Linked DNA regions of Homo sapiens: region 1 is linked to region 2. The links come from fine-mapping of genetic effects on gene expression. A gene starts in region 2. The other region holds a variant in brackets. All regions are shown on one strand. Distances are from middle to middle.

Region 1 (5,380 bases), 390 kb after region 2:
AGAGCTTTTCATGTTCTAAGAGGCACTGTAAATATCTAAGAACCAACTACGGGAAGCAGATTTCCTAAATGTATTTGAATGGGTCCTATGGAAGAATCACTCTTTCTCCTCAACAGAGCATCCAGTAGGATCAGTGTTCCTGTAGTATTGGCCCTCTAGGATACAAGAGGATTAGGGACCCTTAAAAATCACTATCAGGAGAACAAAATGGAAATGAAATGAAGGTCACGGGGGAGACGGCTTTATTTACTTTTACCTCCTCAGAATGGTTTCAGTGTCTATTTTGGTTATTCTTTTTAAAGCCTCATAAGGTGGTAACTATTGACTAATGTTAATCAGTAAATTTACTTGACCCCTTTCTCCCCCTTTACAGCACCTTGCGGGATTAGGGGTCCTACAACATTGTCTTCTAAAGTAAAGAGGAATGAAAGAACTTTGAAATTCACTATTCAGGAGAGGAAAAGAAGCACAAACCAAGTGAGAGAAATGGCTCCATTTTAACTCTCTTAGAAGGTCCTAGTGACTTTTCAGATTGCCCTTTGTAAAGGCATGGTAACTATCGTAGCCATACATTAGTATGAATTAGAATCAAACATTCCATCACACCACCAATTTCCAGAGGATGCATTAGGATACTGAAGATACAAATGCATCTTCCAACACTCCCTCTGTCATGCTCCCACATGACTCTTGGTCCCATGGAAACCCTTGAGATAGGTCACTGAGTAAAGGAAGAAGCCAGTTCTTGGTAGGATTGACTGAACTGGCTAAAGAGCTCATTCCCAAGGTGGATGGTCAGCAGTCCAAAGTAAAATGCCTAGTAGATTGAGGCTAATATCAGAATTCTAGAAGAACCAACCCAGTGGGGGAGTAGGTTTCAAGCACTGGCTAACGCTATAAGTCACGTGGGAGCCAGGGTAATGTTTCAGTGAGCAGTCCATTGACAGAAGTTCTGAAACAGGACCCAGCCCTCAGCAGGAGAGCGCTGGTGAGAGATTTGAATCGCTAGGGTCTGGTCATGGTGTCAGTCCCAGAGGACATCTAGTGTTCAAAGCGGGAAATTCAGACAGACGATCACTGAGATATAGAACAGAGGGTAGTATAACATATAATTGGTAGAACATTCTAATTTACACATTTAATGACTTTTTGCAAACTCAGCATGCTAATGTACTACCTGTCTCTCCATTCATCAATGAAACACTTTCTGAGCATAGACTCTGTGCCAGGCAGACCGCTAGGTACTGGAGATGCAAAACACATAACCTAGTCCCAGGGAGCTTCTAGTCCAGTGGACTCACTAGACAGAGCCTTTCATCTTTCTCCACGCACAGCCAGATTCCAGGCATTAGGGAAGGAAGAGAGTATCTGCCACACTGGAAACTTCATCTTCTCATGTGCTTATTGTTTGTATCCCCTTGTATTCTTCTTTCCTCCTTTCCTTTTCTTGGCTCCTTTTCTTCCTTTCAGATATTTCATATCCCCTAATCTATTTTTTTTTTTTTGAGATGGAGTCTCACTCTGTCACCCAGACTAGAGTGCAGTGGCGCGATCTTGGCTCACTGCAACCTTCGCCTCCCAGGTTTAAGCGATTCTCCTGCCTCAGCCTCCTGAGTAGCTGGGATTACAGGCATGCGCCACCACACCCGGCTAATTTTTTGTATTTTTAGTAGAGATGGGGTTTTGCTATATTGGCCAGGCTGGCCCCTAATCTATTGTATTACATGGCTCACATTTTATTGTAGCACAAGTGTGTTTCTGTCTTCAACAATGTGTACTGACTTGGACATCCCAGAGTCAATAATCTGGAGATACTCTGACTTGTATTATTAGTAGTAGGCCTCACGTATTTTTGTGTTTTTACCTAATAAACTTCCAGCTTATTAGAGAATGCTAATCCAGGAGATCCTGGTTTATGTTAGAGTTTGTAGACCACTACTTCAGAAAAATCAGGAGTGTTTGTGAATTCATGATCACACATAGTAGTGAGAGCAAAAAGACACAGTCTAAGGGCATTTGTTTTTTAAATGATTCTAATAGAAATATTCCACATTTTTATAGAATTATCTTGTTTCCCAACTAACAAAAATCTGTACAACAATAACTTCTAACTTTTGGCAATGAGTAGAAAGGGTGGTTCTCACGAATGCTACCACACAGTGGAAATTTCCCCATCCACATTGAGACTGAGGAAGAGATAATCATCAAAAAAATCAGCCCCTTTCCCAGTTAAGGTTCTCTCTTTCTCTCTCTCTCTCTCTCTCTCTCT[C/CACACACACACACACACA]TCACACACACACACACCACACACACTTCAAAGCCCTTCTTTAAGTTAGGCCAGGAAAGAGCAACTGAGGCGCCCAACATACAGACCCCTTTACCTTTTCAGAGATTGTCTTTGCAAGTCAGGATCTAATACTGGGGTTCAAGGTAAATTTGATATTACACCCACATGGATATAATTTCATATTCTCCCTATTCTGGACCCTGAGATGGAAAGAGCATAGAGACAGGGCCCAGAGATTTTCCAGCAAGAAAATTAAAGAACATATGTGAGGCAGGATAGTTTGCTGAGATACTACTTTTTCTTTCTTCTCTTTGTATTTTCCTCATGCCTCTAGTTCCAAGCAGAGAGCCAGACCCTTTTGCAATTCCTTAGGATATCTGCAGAATGGAAAGGAGGAAGTGTATGAAGCCAAACTTAATCTTACTGTCTTTTGAGAACCCTGAAATTTGGTGAAAATAAATTGCCTCTTGAAAAGTGTGGCAAAGTTGAGATTGGAGAGAGACTGAGGGCGAAGTTGGAGGGGAGGAAAAATGCAGAGGAGAGGCAGCATGGTGAACCTAGGCTGACTCCAGGCACAGAAGATCCGGACCGCCATGAAAACCCCCACGCCCTCAAGAATGAAACAGAAGCAGCTCAGCTAAGGTTTCTGTGCACCTTCTAAACCGAGGAAGGGGAGCCGGGTCAATCAGGCTCAGAGGTAGAGATGCCTAGCTCACTGCTTGCCGGCAGGGGGCGCTCTCCTATTATTGTATTTTCTTTTTTGAGGACATCAAGACTCAGTGTGCAAAAATTCTCATCAAAGATACAAATTCAAATGTGGTTGCTTTTGTAAAAATACCCATCTTCACAACCCCAGACTACTCCTCAACTCGTGCTTGCTGGAGGCTCCACCCTCTGCATTCTCTTCATTACTTCGGGTCTCTTTGACTTGTCTCTTGTAAGGACGAAGGCTTCGCCAGCATCGGCACACATCTGCTGCCTGATCTGGCCATGTGAACCACTGTCCATCCCTCAGAGGCAAATTCCTCCCACAACACCTGACTTACACCAGCCTTTTCTATCCAGAGACCTTGGCACCAGGATTAAAAAGCAAGTATCTCCTTTATTTGCCTCTATTTGGTGGCCGGATGCTAACACAGTACGATTTTCACCTTTTCTCCCTTCTCTTAACTCTCCCATTTAGCTACACAGGTTTGAGGTTAAGCCTAGGATATAGTTGTACACATTAATTATTATTTTACTTGACTTCAAGTAGACTTCTCAGGATATCATTTTGGACTGCTTTCTTGGGATGTTTACTGTGACTCAGAGATGAAAGGTCTTCAGTGACACAGTCCACCTTCCCCCTCCAATGGATACAAAGAATCAGAAGAGTAAAGAGAGAGGTGTTTTTTGCCCCTTTGTCAAGTCTAGAGACAGCAGATTCCCTGGAAACTTCCTAGGTTTGTCTAAGCCTCCCTAGTTTACATTCATCTCTTCTCCTTTAGTCTATAGTGAAGATGGAGATCTCTTGACCTAAATAACATGTTCAAGCATGATCTGTCCCTGTCTTAAAGATTTATTCTTGTTCATTATATTATATCCTACAATCACCCTTGTAAGCATGGTAAGTATGATTTAAAGTCTTCACTTTCTGAGCTTCAGACTAAATAATTCTATTTCTTTCCTCATTTTTCCATAAGCATGGACTTACAAATAATTCAATTCACTTTCTCCATTTTCTCCATCATCATGAACTTACTTAAATCCAGGTGTCCAGTGTGCTGGGTAAGGATGACTGACCAATAAGTATCTTTCCTGTGGGCACTCAGTTCATAGTGTGTGTGTGTGTGTGTGTGTGTGTGTGCACATGTGGTTTGGGAGTGATAGATCTTGTTTTACACACAGAGGTAAGACCCACTTTCCAGCTGGATAGGAAGATGGGGAATAATAAACACAGAAGTCCACCTCATGTCAAATGCAGATCCAGGTGCTAGGGAGACATGGATGAATACGTGTGTCTTTTTCCTGGTGATCTCTTAATTAAATTAAAGCTAAGACTCTGGACACAGCAAACCTAAAGAGGAAATATTCTCCATAGAATAGTGGGCATACTCTGTAGTTACCTCTCTCTATCCCCTAATCCTGTAGAAAAGAAAGTTCATATGCATCAAAAGATGAAAATGCATCAGGTCTGACAATAAGCTTAGCCTTGTTACCTAAAAAAGCTAATGTCATGCTAGCTTTTTCACAGCTATATACACCATGTGATTTTGTATATGTGGCTTTATTTCCCATATAGTCATGGAACTAGTCGGGCAGAGCACCCTGGGTTTGGTTTCTGTCCTGTCATTTGCTTGCAGTGGCAGCTTAACAAATTCCTTTGCCTTTTCTAGTACTGACTGCCTTATTTTTAAGGGCCTTTCTGCAGCTAATACAGGCCATGGTATTGCTTCTTAGTGGCTCAGATGGGACAGGCACTTTGCTTAGGTCCCACAAGACTTTTAATGATATCTGTATCTGTTTTCAGACAACGCCCAAGCTTTCCTCCTAAAACCTAGCTTTGCCTTCTTAAGAATGACAGAAGACAAAGGGAAGAGTCAATAATAATAATTCTTGGAGAAAAATATTGTTTCAAAAGTAGTGGTTTCCTGACTAGTGTGTGTTACCAAGCAGCCTTCTGAAAGACAACAAAGAGGAAATTCTAGTTATCCAGTAGGTGAAGCATTTTTCTTGAGGAGGATGCACTGGGAGAAAGAAGTAGATTCACCCCATAAAAATTAGCCAAGAGTTCTCTGAGCAAATCCTGGAATTCCAAATATTCTTCTATTAGTATCACCTACTACTCAGAAGAGGAGCCCAAAATTCTAGGTGAATGTGCCACCTCCACTATAGTAAGAAGAGGGGATTTGCAGGGCTGGAGAGGACCTCAGAATGTCTGATTTAAGGAGTCAGTATTTTAAATAACATGTTAATTTTTTTTTTTCTGATTAGAGAAGTAACACATTTCAAATACAGAAATGTTAGGAAATTTGGAGGGAAGGTTCCAAGACGGCCGAATAGGAACAGCTCCAGTCTGCAGCTCCCAGTGTGAGCAACGCAGAAGACGGGTGATTTCTGCATTTCCAACTG
Region 2 (5,380 bases):
ATTACAGGTCTGAGGCACTGTGCCTGGCCAGGGATAGATATTTTTAAAACCGCATATTTAGCTTGTGATCTAGAGAGAATAAGAGATCTCAGTTGAGAGGGCAGGAATAAAATACGTTCCACAAGGCAATACTGAGTGACTTAGAACCTATTCCTGCCACTTTTTTTTAGTTTCCTTGATCTTGCGGGTGGAGGGTAAGTGTGTTACTAAGTATGTTCCTGGACAAGGAGTCCCTCTGAAGATAGAAGTGATGAGAAGATAGAAGAAAAGGTAATAAGGCATTAATGAACTCTAATCACACTAAGATTGATGATCGTCTGGTTCCTGTCTATAGGAATGCTACAGGAACTCTTTTACCCTAAAAGTAAATAATAAAGCACAGTTCCAGTTTCTTTTATGTGGATACAAGGTGGCAGTGACTAGAAAAGATAAGAACAGTGCTGTGCTCTAGCATAAAAACGTAATTATGCTATGCAATATGGTAGCCACTAACCACATGTGACTATCGAGAAGTTACAATGTAATTAGTATGATTAGGTAACTGAATTATTTTTATTATATTTCATCTTAATTAATTTTATTACTTTTAAATAGCCACACATGGCTAGTGCCTTCTGTTTTGAACAGTGTGGGATTCATTGGTATTGATAGGCTGGATATACCTCTAGTTTTTATTTTGATTCAATTTATGGTTAGGTGAGTCTAGAAAGAACAAAAGAGAAAGAGACAATGGAGATTAATCATAATAGCCAGCATTTAATGTGTGCTTATTATATATCCAGGCATTTACCTAAACATGTAAAAGGTATTCTGTATAATCCTTGCAAAAATACTAAGATTATTGCTATTTTACAGATGAAAAAATTGAAGCATAATAAGAATTTTACTTGCCTAGAATCACACGAGTAAATAAGGGGTGAAGATGGCATTCATACACAGGTAGTTTTATTAGAGCCCATTCATTTACACTACATAGATTCAGGAATGAGGTGGCATGGAGTGACTGGGGCCATGGTTCCCAAACTGTGCCAAAGTACAAGCTCACAAGGGTATTGTGGAATATTTTTAATTTTCAGAGGAAACACAGCAATATTTTATATTTCTTAAACACTGTGTGACCTATTAACTTGAGGTGATTCACAGTTGGAACATTAGATTGTGCTACATTCCTTTTGATGACAATATATCTGGCCAGGTGTGGTAGCTCATGCCTATACTCTCAGCACTTTGAGAGGCCGAGGTGGGCAGATCAGTTGAAGTCAGGAGTTCAAGGCCAGCTTGGCCAATATGGCAAAACCCCGTCTCTACTAAAAATACAAAAATTAGCCAGGCATGGTGGCAGGCACCTGTAATCCCAGCTACTCGGGAGGCTGAGGCAAAAGAATGGCTCAAACCCAGGCAGCAGAGATTGCAGTGAGGCAAGATCGTGCTACTGTACTCCAGCCTGGGTTACAGAGTGAAACCCTGTCTCAAAAATATATATATATATAAAGACAACATATCTTTACAAAAGATGGTTTTAGAAGGTCCCTCTGATAAAAATTAAGTATTAAGTAAAAAAAAAAAGTACTGTGTAAAAATCAGCATGGAACAGAAAATGAGGGTGGCAGCATTGGATTCCTGCATGTGAGAAGTTGAGTAGTGCCAAACAGATGTACATATCCCGTAAGTAACTGTTTGTGGTTATTTAAGAACGAAATTTTTTTTTCAATTTGTGTGCATTGTTATTTTCAAAGTGCTAGTAAGTTCTCAGGAACCAGCTACTCACTCTGTTGCCCAGGCTGGAGTGCAATGGTGTGATCTCAGGTCACTGCAACCTCCACCTCCCGGGTTCAAGCCATTCTCCCTGCCTCAGCCTCCCAAGTAGCTGGGATTACAGGCGCCTGCCACCACGCCCAGCTAATTTTTTGTATTTTTAGTACAGATGGGGTTTTGCCTTGTTGGCCAGGCTGGTCTCCGACACCTGACCTCAGGTGATCCACCCACCTCGGCCTCCCAAAGTGCTGGGATTACCGGCGTGAGCCACCGCGCCTGGCCTTTATATATAAATTTTTTTTTAATTTTTTAAATTAAAAATTAAATGTAAATTTAATGTAAAAATGTAAATTAAATGTAAAAATTAAATTGTAAATGTGGGCAGAAGTAATAGTTGTATTCTACCAAAGACACGCTATTTATGTTATATTCTGGTACCCGTGTATTCCGATAACAGAATTTTCTTCGTGGGAGGAGTCCTCTAGTTACCTGAATTGCTTGGATCAATATTGCGCAGATCAAGGGATTATCTGTGTCCCTACCCACCAAATCCATCCTTATCCTTTCTGTCGGCATCTAGGACCCCGGAATTCTTGCCTGAGAACTTTTTCTTCTCCCGGTCTGGGCCTGGATGTGCTCTCCTAAACCCTGTATCCTCCAAGTTAGCACTGTTGCCGGGGGCGACCCAGCTTCCCTTGTCCAGGGAGCAACTCAGACACAGTCTCGCTTCATTTTTATTCTGGGGTTGTACAATCTAAGGTATGAAATTTTTCCTTTTTGAATCTCTCACGGTTTGCTATTGACACAGCTGGAATGAGGTTGCAAGGAGAGGGCTGGGGGCTCTCCTCCCTACTTCTAGCCCTATTTCCGCATAGGCCTTCTTGCTGGGAACTCCTGCCCTGCGGACTGGAATGGGTACCGAGATGAAATGCTGGGTGCGCTCCGGCTCCCCCCGCCCGCCCCGGGGCAGAAGGTTTAGGGCTGGGAAGAACTCTGATTAGGTTTACAGCCCAGGTTCAGCCGATTGAATTAGGGTGTGTCACCATGGAGACAGGGCCGGCCCGCGTGCTCGCTTGCCATTGGCTGGGGACTCCAGGGCAAGGGATATAAGCCAGAGCCTAGACCAGTGAGCCAACTGTGCGAACCAGACCCGGCAGCCTTGCTCAGTTCAGCATAGCGGAGCGGATCCGATCGGATCGGAGCGGATCGGAGCACACCGGAGCAGGCTCATCGAGAAGGCGTCTGCGAGACCATGGAGAACGGGTGAGGAGGGCACCAGGCCCGCAGGACCCTTGGGGAGGGGCAGGTGCTGTGACCCGGGAACCTGGCACACTGGGCCCAGAGGGAGCTGGCGGAGGGAGCGAGCGCCCAGGGGATGCAGAGAGGCCTGGCACTGAGCCTAGTGTCGGGAGCAAGGCGGCAGAGTCATGCGGCAGCCAGCGCGGGCAGGGACGCACGCGGGAATCGAGCTGGGGTGGCGCCACCGGAGCAGGAAGGGGACAGGTCGGTGCGGTCTAAGCTACTCCGTAAAAGCAGCCGTTGTGTGTCTCCGTGTGTGTGTTAGGGGAACAAGTGGAGAGTGAGTATATGTATATATCCCTCACTCCATACCAGGAGGAGGTCTCCTCACCCCCTGCGCTCTTCATAAATTCCCATGCTAGGGTCTGGGTAAAGCTGCGAGGTACTTTTGGTGCTCAAATTCGGAGTTCCTCCTTTAGAGGCAAGATTACTCACCTCCTTTGCCAGTTGCACTCCTCCCTTCCTTCCAGACTGGCAGTATGATTAACTCGGTGGGAAGTGACTGCTAAGTGGAGACGGAAATCAGTCACCGAACTGAGCAACAGTCCTGTGCTCACTTCCCCCACCCCACGCCTTTGAAAACTCTTCTCTCGGCTTGGGTCCTGGATATCCCAGTCCAAGTGACCTGCATTAGGCATCACAGTTGCTTTTGGATGCCCAGGGAGCCAGGGTGTTCTTGAGGGGACTGATAGCCAATGAGGAAGTGCTGTGAGATGTGGCTAGACATGCCATGTGGCGGCAGCTTCACACATTCATTTCCTTTGCACCTTTTGGGGATGCCATTTGATTAACATTTTACCAGCTTAATTGCTTCTCTCCATTGTCCTGTGGCTCCGTTGACCAGCCCCCAACCTACCTGATCCAACTGCTTCCCTGAGGGTAGCCTGGTGTATTGTGCAATCATGTCTGGTTTCCCGGGCTCTGCTTTCCAAGTAAAAAATTTCCTGTGAAAGCTTGGTTAGTTGTGTTCAGCTCTGTCACACCTCATTGCCACCTCTGAAAGCAACGTTTGGTCTTCCCAGATGGATGTGAGAGAACTGGACTTGGAACTGGGAGAAAAGTAACACGGGTTGATTCTTGCTAGTGTAGGGGTTCTGGGTAAGTGCCCTGAGGTTTCTGAAGAGCAAAGATCCTCGGTGGAGAGAAAGGAAACTGGGAGGAGGCAGGGAGGGGGAAGGACAGGAAGAAGACCACAGGCAGGTGGAAAGCAGGAGAAAGATTCAAATACTTTGTGTAACAGAGCCATAGGTCTTTGGAAGTTGTTAGCAAGTATTCAATTCATTTTCAGATTGAGCCTATAAGATAGATGGGGCCAATTTACATCCCTTGTTTATACCTGAGAAAATAATTTAAAGCACAAATTACATGCCTAAAAAGACAATATTGGGACTAGAATCTAGGTCGAATTCTGCTTCCCTCCAGACCAGCAATTCCTAAACCTGGTTTTATTTTATTTTATTTTTATTTATTTATTTTGGAGTCGGAGTCTCGCTCTGTCTCCCAGGCTGGAGTTCAGTGGAGCGATCTTGGCTCACTGCAACCTCTGCCTCCCGGGTTCACACCATTCTACTGCCTCAGCCTCCCGTGTAGCTAGGACTACAGGGGCCCGCCACCACGCCCGGCTAATTTTTTTTTTTTTTTTTTTTTTTTTGTATTTTTAGTAGAGACGGGGTTTCAACATGTTAGCCAGGATGGTCTCGATCTCCTGACCTCGTGATCCGCCCACCTCGGCCTCCCAAAGTGCTGGGGTTACAGGCATGAGCCACCGCGCCCAGCCCCTAAACCTGGTTTTAAAATCAAAATTACATGGGCTTCAGAATCTGTTTTTTGTGGGGGTTTTGTGTGTGTGTGTGTGTGTGTTTTTTATAGGGTCTCACTCTGTCACCAGGCTGGAGTGCCAGAATCTGTTTTTCTAACAAGCTTCTGCTGAGAATTTGTGTAGTCAGTCCTGGTTTAACCTTTGACAACCAGTACTGTGGACTGGGTCTGCTTTTTTGTACAGCAGTTTATCTAGTTTTTTGTCTGGAATTAACCCCCTTGTGATCCAGGGAGCTAAGAATGGCACGTAGACCTCTACCAGGGGTGGTCCCATTGTGTTTTATTGGTTAAAACAAAAAAGAAATGTAGCCCTTAAGTCTTTGGCTGAGGAAGGAACTGGAGGAATGAGGGTTCAAAAGGAAATTTGAGTTTATCTCTGCCTTCATAGTAGTTGGTCTTAATTACATTTTGAATGTCTTTGGGGAACAGGTAAGGTAATAAGGGGGATTTTACTAGGTGGGCACCACCCTCAGGAAGGGCTTAATCCCATTTTGAGTACTCTTCTTGG

Evidence for each region.
Region 1: its variant is fine-mapped to the expression of PNP in macrophages (Nedelec 2016, PIP 0.95).

Annotation. Positions count from the first base shown.
Region 1 is chr14:20,854,833-20,860,212 of GRCh38, forward strand. No RefSeq gene overlaps it. Among named protein-coding and RNA genes, the nearest start is that of RNASE3, 34 kb to the right of the region's middle. The variant C/CACACACACACACACACA (reference allele first, on the strand shown) is at 2,270.
Region 2 is chr14:20,466,518-20,471,897 of GRCh38, forward strand. It overlaps PNP (purine nucleoside phosphorylase), which reads left to right and starts at 2,889. Exons shown (of 6, transcript NM_000270.4): 1 at 2,889-3,018. The coding sequence starts at 3,008. RefSeq lists enhancers at 2,656-3,160, 3,351-3,420, 3,451-3,580 and a silencer at 2,821-2,940.